4 separate regions of the Homo sapiens genome follow, and all the other regions are linked to region 1. Evidence: fine-mapped expression QTL. A gene starts in region 1. Each other region holds a variant in brackets. All regions are shown on one strand. Distances are from middle to middle.

Region 1 (2,685 bases):
GGAGGTGAAATTGGAGGATGCTCAGCAGGACAGGCCCTGGCCAGACTCACTGGAAGCAGCCACCCGGGTCTGAGGTGTCCAAAGAGGGTGTAACGTCGCCCCGCCATAGGGATCCCCACTTCCTGGTGCCGGCTCAGCGGGAGGGTGACAGGGCAGGACAACGTTCACACGGGCCAACCACCCACCCCGCAGCACACGTGGGGCTGGCCTGGCTGGGGGCTCTGGGGCAGGGTGGAGGCCAGAGATGGGTCTTACCTCTGGTGGGGAGAATCAGGCCAACGATGGTGAGAAGACACAGGCGACCAGAGGGCGACATCTGTGGGACCAGGCGATGCTGGGGTCAGCCATGATGTCAGTGAGACCGACCTCCGGCAGCCCCCGGGGATCCTGCAGCCCTTTCCCTGCCCTGAGCAAAAACCTCTGGCTTCCAAGACCCCCTGCCAGGGGCTGACGGCTGGCCTCAGGGGAAAGGGGAGGGTCTTAGGTGGGGATACCAAACCGTCACCCTGCTTCCTTCCCCTGCAGGTCCCCAAAGAAAACAAGAAGCATGAGATAAATGGGTCTTCCAGCAGCTGCAAGGGCCGGCGGGCACTCCTGAAGCAGAGAAACACCTCCCTGCGCCTTCCGCCAGGCGCTTATCCCTCACTGGGACTGACGCAAGGAGGGGACTGGGGCAGAGGAGTAGATAGGAGGCCTCTTCCCTCCCCCAGGGGCCCAGAGCCCGGGAGTCGGCGAGGAGGGGAAGGAGGAAGAGTGAGTAACGCCTCCCGCGCTCAGAGGAAAAAGTGAGTTGGTGTCAGGGGCCGCCTTGCAGGGATGGCGCGCTGGAGAGACCTAAGAGGCACTGGTCCGAGGGGGGTGGCAGAGAGCTGGGGAGACTGAGGCAGGCGGGCGGGAGCGAGGCAGAGCGGCCCACTGTAGCCCAGGAGAGGAGGCAGAGAGATGTGGGCGTGGATGGGGGGCGGAGAGGAGCGGAAGGGGTCAAACCCCTACCCACCTGAGCCCGGCCCGTGGGCAGAGGGGCAGCGGATGGAGGTGGCGCACGAGAGGGACTTACGTCGGAGCTGGGGGTCCTAAGCCGGCAGCCTCGTGGAGAGAGGGACGCGGCGGTGGCTGCTGCGTCCAGGCGGAGGGTGTGGCCAGGGGAGCGCGAGCGGGCGGGGACCCAGACGGGCTCAGTCATTTCCTCTTGGGTTTCCTGGCTTCAGAGCCCGGGGTGGGAGCAGGAGGGGGAATCGCTGAGGGCGACGGGGGGCAGGGGTGAGGGCATAGTGGTGGGAGAGGGTGGGAACGGGGATGGGGCAGGCAGGTCTAGGGTGAGTGGACGCCTCTGAGAGAGCAGGGGGAGAAACGGGAGGGCTCTATTCTGGGGTCGCTGGAGGAAGGGAAAGGACAAATCCGGAGGTGTTGAGGAAGGAGAAGGGATTGAAGGGGGGCATCTCGGGGCACTGGGGGAGGAGAATGAAGAGGGGGCGACTCCGGGCACGCAGGGGAGAGCTACCCCAGGTTCAGTTCTGCACCCCTACCCACACCGTGCCCCACAGATGAGAACACACAGACAGAACAGAGGAAAAAACCAAATGCACATTTATTAAGCTCAAGACATGGACACTGAGGGGCCAGGGGGACGGATCTTCGGGGATGAGACAAGGAGGTGCAGGGGGGCCATACACGGGGATGCTGGGGGTGCTGGGCCGGGATGGACTCCCGGATCCCAGGAGCTGGAGGCCTGAGGCCCTGGGTCTGGGGTGCAGACGGGCTCTTTGGGGGATCGTCATTGCCAAGGCCTGGAGAGGGACAGCAGGGTGCAGCGGCTCCAGCCTTGGGGTGGGTGGGGCGGCTCATTCCGGGGAGCGCTCCCGGCGCGCGGCTGGGTCCCCACCGCCTCCACCCGGTCCTCAGGCTCCCGCGCTCAGGCAGGGTCGGCAGCGGAGTTTCCTCGGGAAGGTGTTACACGCCGCCGCCACCAGGGGCTGGGGAGAGAGGGGGTGCGTGAGCCACTAGAAAGGTGGAAACTGCCTCCCTCCCCACAGCTCGTTGGCTCTCCATTCCCCGGCACCATGGAAGCCAGACCCCAGGGACTGTCACCCCAGAGCTAACACTGAGGAGCTGTCTTGCCTCCCACACTCTAATGTCTTGTTCCCTTGGGGACACCTCCTGGCTGCTGTCATGGAGAGAAACACCTGCTACGGGGCTGGCGACCCCAGACCCAACCTGGGCTTTTGGGGCTATCCGCCTGCCAGAAAGGGAGTCCCCATCTCCCTTCCCATTTGCAATCTCCTCCTACACCCTCACTCCTTTCCTACACTCCCTGTCCTGAACATTTGGATACAACGGGAAGTCCCCCATTCCCCACCCGCTGCAGACCATCATTCACCTAGGATAGACCAGAAACCTGTGCAAAGTCTTCAGCTGTGCCCCAGGTGACAAGGCCAACCCCCATGCTGCCCCACGCATCCATAAGTGCCTTGTTCATGTTTTAAAACTCATTAAATAAACATGAAACAGGCCAAGCGCTGTGGCTCACGCCTGTAATCCAAGCACTTTGGGAGGCCGAGGATGGCGGATCGTTTGAGGTCAGGAGTTTGAGACCAGCCTGGCCAAAATGGTGAACCACCATCTCTGCTAAAGATATAAAAATTAGCCGGGTGTGGTGGTGTGTGCCTGTAGTCCCAGCTATTTGGG
Region 2 (2,685 bases), 25 kb before region 1:
AGGAAGCTACTGGTGATGGTCTGAGTGACTGCCTTGCCACTCCATGCTATGACCTATCAGTGTACCCTTCATTACTGAAAACAAGGTCATTAATGGCTTTCAATTTAATTAGAGAACCAATTCTAGAAAAACCAGATCTCGGCCGGGCGCGGTGGCTCACGCCTGTAATCCCAGCACTTTGGAAGGCCGAGGCAGGTGGATCACAAGGTCAAGAGATTGAGACCATCTTGGCTAATACGGTGAAACCCCGTCTCTACTAAAAGTACAATAAAATTAGCTGGGCGTTGTGGCAGGCGCCTGTAGTCCCAGCTGCTGGGGAGGCTGAGGCAGGAGAATGGCGTGAACCCGGGAGGCGGAACTTGCAGTAAACCAAGATCACGCCACCACACTCCAGCCTGGGTGACAGAGTGAGACTCCATCTCAAAAAAAAAAAAAAAAGAGAAAGAAAAACCAGATCTCATTGTTAAGATTCTGGCCTTCTGGAACCACTCTTAGTACCAAATTCTGTATCAGCAAAGCTGAACCTTTAATACATATGTGGGCGTACACACACACAGTTTGCTACACGAATTTGACCTTCAACAATTGTAGTTGCTAGTGAAGCTCTCTTTGTAGGGCTGTTGTCTTGATGCTGGAACTTGAAACCCACAGGTGCAGGAAGTCAGGAAGGGAAGATTGAGGTAAGATTGGGGAGAGCACGGAACAAGTTAGAACCCACAAGCACAAGCTGGAGTCCACAAGGATGGACTGAATCCTATGTTAATTCTTTTTCTTTTTCTTTTCTCTTCTTTTTTTTCTTTCTTTCTTTCTTTTTGTTTTTCTTTTTGAGACAGAGTTTCACTCGGTCGACCAGGCTGGAGTGCAGTGGTGTGATCTCTGCTCACTGCAACCTCTGCTTCCCAGGTTGAAGAGATTCTCTTGCCTCAGCCTCCCGAGTAGCTGGGATTGCAGGCATGCAACATCACGCCTGGGTAATTTTTGTATTTTTAGTAAAGATGGAGTTTCACCATGTTGACCAGGCTGGTCTCGAACTCCTGACCTCAAGTGATCCACCCGCCTCGGCCTCCCAGAGTGCTGGAATTACAGGCATGAGCCACTGCACCCAGCCCCATGCTAATTCTTGTTGTCTATGACCTTGGTGCTGTGGGTGTCTTGCTAGAGTCATGGTCCTTCATCACGGGGCTGAGCACACATGTCTGGCCCAACAACTGGGGAAGCTGAAGGAGGATCCAGCGGAAGGTGAAACAGTTGCAGCCCTGGTTGCTGCCTTATGCCAATGAGATGAGCTGTCTGATAAGTGACAACTGGTATAAGCTGCGAAATGTCCGTGGCTTCACCTCTACCCAGCAGATCCCTGACAAGAATGTCTCTTGTGGTTCACCCTAACCAGAAAACACAGGCATCTAGGGAAAAAGATTCTGGGAAGTGTAGTTTAACCTGGCCAAGGTGATACATTACAAAGCCACCTCAGGCGAT[G/A]TTTCAAACCCTGTTTAACCTCCCACCATCAGCAGCTGGAGTCCTTGACTCAATAACTTCTTGAGAAGCCAACAGACTTTACCGAAGCAATCATTGGAGGTCATCCTCAACACCTCCAAGAAAAGCACAATCTAGTGTCAGATGAGAAAAGGCAGATTCCTTCCAGTTAATGTGATCTGGCCTCAATTTCAAAACAAGAACCTTGACAGAATTGTACTCAGGAGGCTAGCTGAATTACAACATCCACTCCATTAGCTCCTGGCAAGATATCTCCCCTGATGTAAGGGTGGAGGAGGAGGAGGCTTCACTTCAGACCATGATGCCACAGAAAAAGATGTCTTTTGCCAGAAAGGGATTGGGTAGCATTGGAGAGCATTGGAGGCGCTGTTGAAGTGATGTCTGGAAGTCTCTATCAAGTCTGAGAATCAGTGCTGCTGTCCTCTGGAAGTTTCAAAAACGACCAGTTTTTTTTTTTTTTTTGAGATGACGTCTCACTCTTGTCACCCAGGCTGGAGTGCAATGGTGCAATCTTGGCTCACTGCAACCTCCGCCTCCTAGGTTCAAGTGATTCTCTTGCCTCAGCCTCCCGAGTAGCTGGGATTACAGGCATGTGTCACATGCCTGGCTAATTTTTGTATTTTTAGTAGAGATGGGATTTCACCCTGTTGGCCAGGCTGGTTTCGAACTCCTGACCTCAGGTGATCCACCTGCCTTGGCCTCCCAAAGTGTTGAGATTACAGGTGTGAGCCACTGTGCCTGGCCAACCCCCAGTCTTAACAGTTATCTTTTCCTTTTACATTGGAGTAAAAATGACTTGAGGCTCCATCTCCTGACTTGGTGGCAGCTCCCCATCCTTCTCAGCATCCTAATCAACAAATTCCTGAGGGCAATTATTTTCCTTGATGGTATTTGGGGTGTCACGGACTCAGCTAAAAGACCACATTTCTGTGTCCTTTGCAATTAGAGGTAGCAATCCGAAGGAAGTAGAAATCTTTGGGAGGGAGTCTTGGGAAGTCCCTTTAAAAGGAGCTGAATCACCTAGTGGTGCCTTTCCTTTCTCACTTTTTTTTCCCCTTCTTGATTTTTTTCCTGGAATGTGGCATGATGGCTGAGGCTTCTGCAGCTATTTTGTGATCTTGAGGCTTCAGGCCACATGCTTAGGGTGGCAGAGCAGCAAGTCTGGTCCCTTATGATATTAGGGATCCTCTT
Region 3 (2,685 bases), 29 kb before region 1:
CACTATCAACTATAGTAACCATGCTTACCTTATCTTTGGCATATAAGTACAGATATCTCTTTGACATACTCATTTCCTGTCCTCTGAATATATACCCTAGAGTGTATTGCTGGATCATAGATAGGATAGTTCTATTTTTAGGTGTTTTTAAGGAGCCTCCATACTGTTTTCCAGTATGATTGTACTAATTTACATTTCCACCAACAGTGTATAAGAGTTCCTTTTCCTCTGCATCCTTGCCAGCTTTTGTTATTTTTTCTCTTTGATAACAGCCATTCTAAGTGGAGTGAGATGATATCTTATTGTAGTATCAATTTGCATTTGCCAGATGATTAATGATGTTGAATATTTTTCATATATACTTGTTGGTCATTTGTATGTCTTCTTTTGAGAAATGCCTATTCAGATAATTTGCTGATTTACTACTCCTTGAGGATTTCTTGTAAGGCTACTTTAGTGGTAATAAATTCCCTCAGTTTTTGCTTGTCTGGGAAAGACTTTATGACTCCTTCATTTCTAAAGGATAGATTTGCTGTTACAGTATTCTTGGCTGCCAGGTTTTTTTCTTTCATCACTTAGAATATATCATCCCATTCGCTCCTGTAATATAAGGTTTCTGCTGAGAAGTCTTCTATTAGTCTAATGGGGATTCCCTTATATGTGACTTGATGCTTTTCTCTTGCTGTTTTTCAAATTCCCTCATGGTCTTCAACTTTTGACAGTTTGACCAGAATGTGCTACAGAGAGGACCTTTTTGGGTTGAATCTATTTGGGGACTTTTGAGCATCCTGAATCTGGATGTCCATACCTTTCCCGAGACTTTGGAAGTTCTCAGCTATTACTTTATTACATAGGATTTCTGTGTCTTTTCTCATCTCTTTTCCTTTTGGAAATTGGAATATCTGTTTGCTTAACAATGTCCCATAGGTCTTGTAGGCTTCCTTCATTCTTTTTTATTTTATTTTTTGTCTGATTGAGTTATTTCAAAAGAGACCTGTCTTCAAGTTTAGAAATTCTTTCTTCTGCTTGACCTAGTTTGTTGTTGAAGCTCTCAATTATATTTTAAATTTCATTTATTGGCCGGGATCGGTGGCTCACGCCTGTAATTCTAGCACTTTGGGAGGCTGAGGTGGGCAGATCACCAGGTCAGGAGTTCGAGACCAGCCTGGCCAACATGGCGAAACCCCGTCTCTACTAAAAATACAAAAATTAGCTGGGCATGGTGGCAGGGGCCTGTAATCCCAGCTACTCAGTAGGTTGGGGCAGAAGAATTGCTTGAACCTGGGAGGCAGAGGTTGCAGTGAGCCAAGATCATGCCATTGCACTCCAGCCTGGGTGACAAGAGCAAGACTCTGTTTCAAAAAAAAAAAAAAAAAAATCATTTATTAAGTCTTCAGCTCCAAAATTTATGTGTTTTTTTTTATGATATCCATCTCTTTACTGATTTTTTTTCATTCTGATCATGAACTGTTTTCCTGATTTTTTTGGG[C/G]GGGGGATGTTGTCTCACTCTGTTGCCCAGGCTGGAGTACGGTGGCACGACCTTGGCTCACTGCAACCTCCGCCTCCAGGGTTCAAACGATTCTTCTGCCTCAGCCTCCCAAGTAGCTGGGACTATAGGCATGCACCATCATGCCTGGCTAGTTTTTGTATTTTTAGTAGAGACATGGTTTTGCCATGTTGGCCAGGATGCTCTCAAATTCCTGACTTCAGGTGATCCACCCACCTCGGCCTCCCGAAGTGCTGGGATTACAGGCGTGAGCCACCGCGCCCAGCCCTGTTTTCCTGATTTTGTTGAATTGTCTATTTGTATTCTCTTGTATCCCATCAAATTTCCTTATGATCACTTGAATTCTTTTTTGGGAATTGCACAGATGTTCTTTTCTTTGGGGTCTATTATTGGAGGATTATTGTGTTCCTTTAGAGGTGTCATGTTTTCTTGCTTTTTCATGTTTCTTGTGTTCCTACACATCTGGTATAATAGCTACCTCTTCCAATTTGATGGAGTAACTTTCATAAGTAAAGACTTTTTCCTGTATATGTACCCTATAGTGTCGGTTGTGTAGGATGCTTTGGCTGTGGTTCTAGATAAACACAGTAGTATGATCTCCATGTGATTTCTTTGGCTGTAATTAATGTCAGCAGTGTCTGTGAATACTTCAGTGGCCTAATATTCAGGTGTTTAAGGAGGCAGTGGTGTGGCTTTGCTGGAGGAAGGAGCTGGGTGAACCCTAGGGAAGTGTGCACTGGGCATGGTGGCTCTGCTAGTTGTGAGGCAGCATTGCCATCACTGTTGGGCACCAGGCAGGCAAGTCCTTGGTCCCTGAGGGATTTGCACATTGGTTCCCCATGTTTTGGGGGCTGCCACCCTGCTGTGATAGATTGCCTGTTCCCTGGGGTGTGGGGCACTGTATGAGTTCAAATGCTGGGGTCATAGCTGTACTTCTGGATCTAACTGGTGTTGTGGCATTGCACCCTTTTGTGTAGACATGGTGGAATAACAGAAGGACCCCAGGGATGTGGAGATGCAGGAGCTATTGGCATCCAAGGCAGAATGCCCTCTAGCAGTGGGCTCTGTTCTCAAAATAGCCCTGTGTGGTAGCAGCCTGGGTCTTTGGGAGTGGGGCCTCAGTGTGAGTCCTTTCTCTGGGGCAGTGTAGCCATGTGGATTCTAGGCAGCTCCCTAGA
Region 4 (2,685 bases), 21 kb before region 1:
CTCTGTCACTCTGTCACCCAGGCTGGAGTGCAGTGGCTTGATCTCGGCTCACTGCAACCTCCGCCTCTCAGGTTCAAGTGATTCTCCTGCCTCAGCCTCCTGAGTAGCTGGGATTACAGGCATGCACCGCCATGCCTGGCTAATCTTTCTATTTTTAGTAGAGATGGGGTTTTGACATGTTGGCCAGGCTGGTCTCAAACTCCTGACCTCAGGTAATCCGCCTGCCTCGGCCTCCCAAAGTGCTGGGATTACAGGTGTAAGCCACTGCACTTGGCCTAATTTTTGTATTTTTTGTAGAGACAAGGTTTCACCATATTGGCCAGGTTGGTCTCAAACTCCTGAGATCAAGCGATCTGCCTGCCTCGGCCTCCCAAAGTGCTGGGATTACAGGTGTGAGCCACTGCGCCCAGCCCAGGCTTCCCCATCATCTTGGGTCCCATCCTAGCTCCTAGCTGAACCGTGAGGGACATGTAGTGAGAGCGAGAAACAAACCTTTGTTGTAAGCCACGAGATTTTGAGATTATTTGTGACTGTCAATTTTAAGCAAAATTGGTCTGGCTTGGCATAAGGAATTAGAGGTTGACAAGCTCTTTGGAAAGGCTGGTGGAGTGCGCTCTAAGTGAAGACTGCAAATGATTCCACAACATGAGCAGACTGACTTGCCCAAGGAGCTTCTCCCTCCACCCTAATCAGGAGCCCCCATTGTACACGTCAGCTTCAGCATCTGGCTGCTCTGTCTGAGATCCAGGGATCAGAAAATCATCACCACCCAGGACAGAACTGCCTATTTGTTTTCAATGTTCTTGTTTTGTATTGAGTTATAATTTACTGTGTTAGTTCATTTTGCATTGCCATAAAAGAATACTTGAGACAGTAATTTATAAGGAAAAGAGAATTCTTTGGCTCATGGTTCTTCAGGCTGTACAAGCACAGCACCAGCATCTGCTTGGCTTTTGGTGAAGAGACCTCAGGAATCTTTTACTCATAGCAGGAAGTGAAGGGATAGCAGGCGTGTCCCATGGCAAGAGCAGGAGTAAGACAGAGAGAGGGGGAGGTGCCAGGCTCTTTAAGCAACCAGCTGTCACGTGAGCTAAGAGGGCAAGAACTCACGCATGACCATGGGGAGGACACCAAGCCATTCATGAGGGATCAACCCCCATGACCCAATCACCTCCCACCAGGCCCCCCTCCATCATCGGGGATCACATTTCAACATGAGATTTGGAGGGGTCACACATCCAAATATCACTTACACATAGTAAAGTGTACAAATCTTTTTTTTTTTTT[TC/C]CTTTGAGACAGGGTCTTGCTCCATCACCCAGGCTGGAGTCCAGTGGCGCGATCTCGGCTCACTGCAACCTCCGCCTCCCACGTTCAGGCGACTCTCCTGCTTCAGCCTTCTGAGGAGCTGGGATTACAGGCATGCACCACCATGCCTGGCTAATTTTTGTATTTTTAGTAGAGACGGGGTTTCACCATGTTGGCCAGGCTGGTCTCGAACTCCAACCTCAAGTGATCCACCTGCCTTGGCCTCTCAAAGTGTTGTGATTACAGGCATGAGCCACGGCACCGAGCCCTCAAAACTTAAACGTACAATTTGATCATTCTGATCAATATATGGACATGTAATCTGCACCACTGTCATCAGGGCACAGAACATTTCAATCCTTCCAGAAAGTTCTTTCATGCCCCTTTGCAGTCTCTCCCCACCTCCTGCTGACATAGTAGAGGCCACTACTCTTCTGATTTTTATCACTGTTAATCAGTTTTGCATATTTCAGAACTTCATATAAATGGAATTACACAGTCTGTGCTCTTTCGTGTGTGGTTTCTTTCACTCAAGACAATGCTTTTGAGATTCATTCATGTGTTGTGTAGCTCAGTCTTTCTTCCTTCCACAGTTTGTAGTCCACTCACTTGTGCTGATGGACATTGGGGTTGTTTCTAGTCTTTTTACTATTACAGATATTGCTGTAAACATTTGTGTGTGGGTCTTTGTGTGGACATGTGGTTTGACTTCTCTTGGATAAATACTTAAGAGTTGAATAGCTGGGTCATAGGTTAAGTGCACATTTACCTTTTTAAGAAACTGCCAATTTTCTTTTCTTTTCTTTTTTTTTTTTTTGAGACCGAGTCTCGTTCTGTTGCCTAGGCTGGAGTACAGTGGTCTGATCTCGGCTCACTGCAACCTCTGTCTCCTGGGTTCAAGTGATTTTCCTGCCTCAGCCCCCCGGGTAGCTGGGATTACAAGCACCCACCACCACATCCAGCTAATTTTTGTATTTTTAGTAGAGACGGGGCTTCACCATGTTGGCCAGGCTGGTCTCGAACTCCTGACCTCAGATGGTCTTCAGCCTCCCAAAGTGCTGGGATTACAGGTGTGAGCCACCGTGGCCAGCCTAGAAACTGCCAGTTTTCTAAAGTGATTGTATCCCTTTCTGGTCCAGCTACGAATGGAAATTCCACTTGTTCCACATCCTCTTCCCACTTGGAAGTGTCTGTCTTTTTAATTTTAGCCATCCTAGTGGGTGTGTGGTGGTATCTCATTGTGATTTTCATTTATTTTTACTGATGACTGTTGATATTGAACATCTTTTCATGTGCTTATTGGCCATTTAGATTTCCCTTTCCCTTCCTTCCTTCCTTCGTTCCTTCCTTCGTTCCTTCCTTCCTTCCTTCCTTTCTTC

The links.
Region 2: its variant is fine-mapped to the expression of FXYD5 in whole blood (TOPMed, PIP 0.94).
Region 3: its variant is fine-mapped to the expression of FXYD5 in monocytes (Fairfax 2014, PIP 0.95).
Region 4: its variant is fine-mapped to the expression of FXYD5 in monocytes (Quach 2016, PIP 0.92).

The regions. Positions count from the first base shown.
Region 1 is chr19:35,153,182-35,155,866 of GRCh38, reverse strand. It overlaps FXYD5 (FXYD domain containing ion transport regulator 5), which reads right to left and starts at 1,132. Exons shown (of 9, transcript NM_014164.6): 1 at 1,058-1,132; 2 at 256-316. The coding sequence starts at 316. It overlaps FXYD7 (FXYD domain containing ion transport regulator 7), which reads right to left. Exons shown (of 6, transcript NM_022006.2): 6 at 1,565-1,973. The coding sequence ends at 1,951. RefSeq lists enhancers at 192-361, 1,300-2,164.
Region 2 is chr19:35,177,976-35,180,660 of GRCh38, reverse strand. No RefSeq gene overlaps it. Among named protein-coding and RNA genes, the nearest start is that of FXYD5, 25 kb to the right of the region's middle. The variant G/A (reference allele first, on the strand shown) is at 1,477.
Region 3 is chr19:35,182,392-35,185,076 of GRCh38, reverse strand. No RefSeq gene overlaps it. Among named protein-coding and RNA genes, the nearest start is that of FXYD5, 29 kb to the right of the region's middle. The variant C/G (reference allele first, on the strand shown) is at 1,490.
Region 4 is chr19:35,174,380-35,177,064 of GRCh38, reverse strand. No RefSeq gene overlaps it. Among named protein-coding and RNA genes, the nearest start is that of FXYD5, 21 kb to the right of the region's middle. RefSeq lists a silencer at 1,058-1,214. The variant TC/C (reference allele first, on the strand shown) is at 1,288.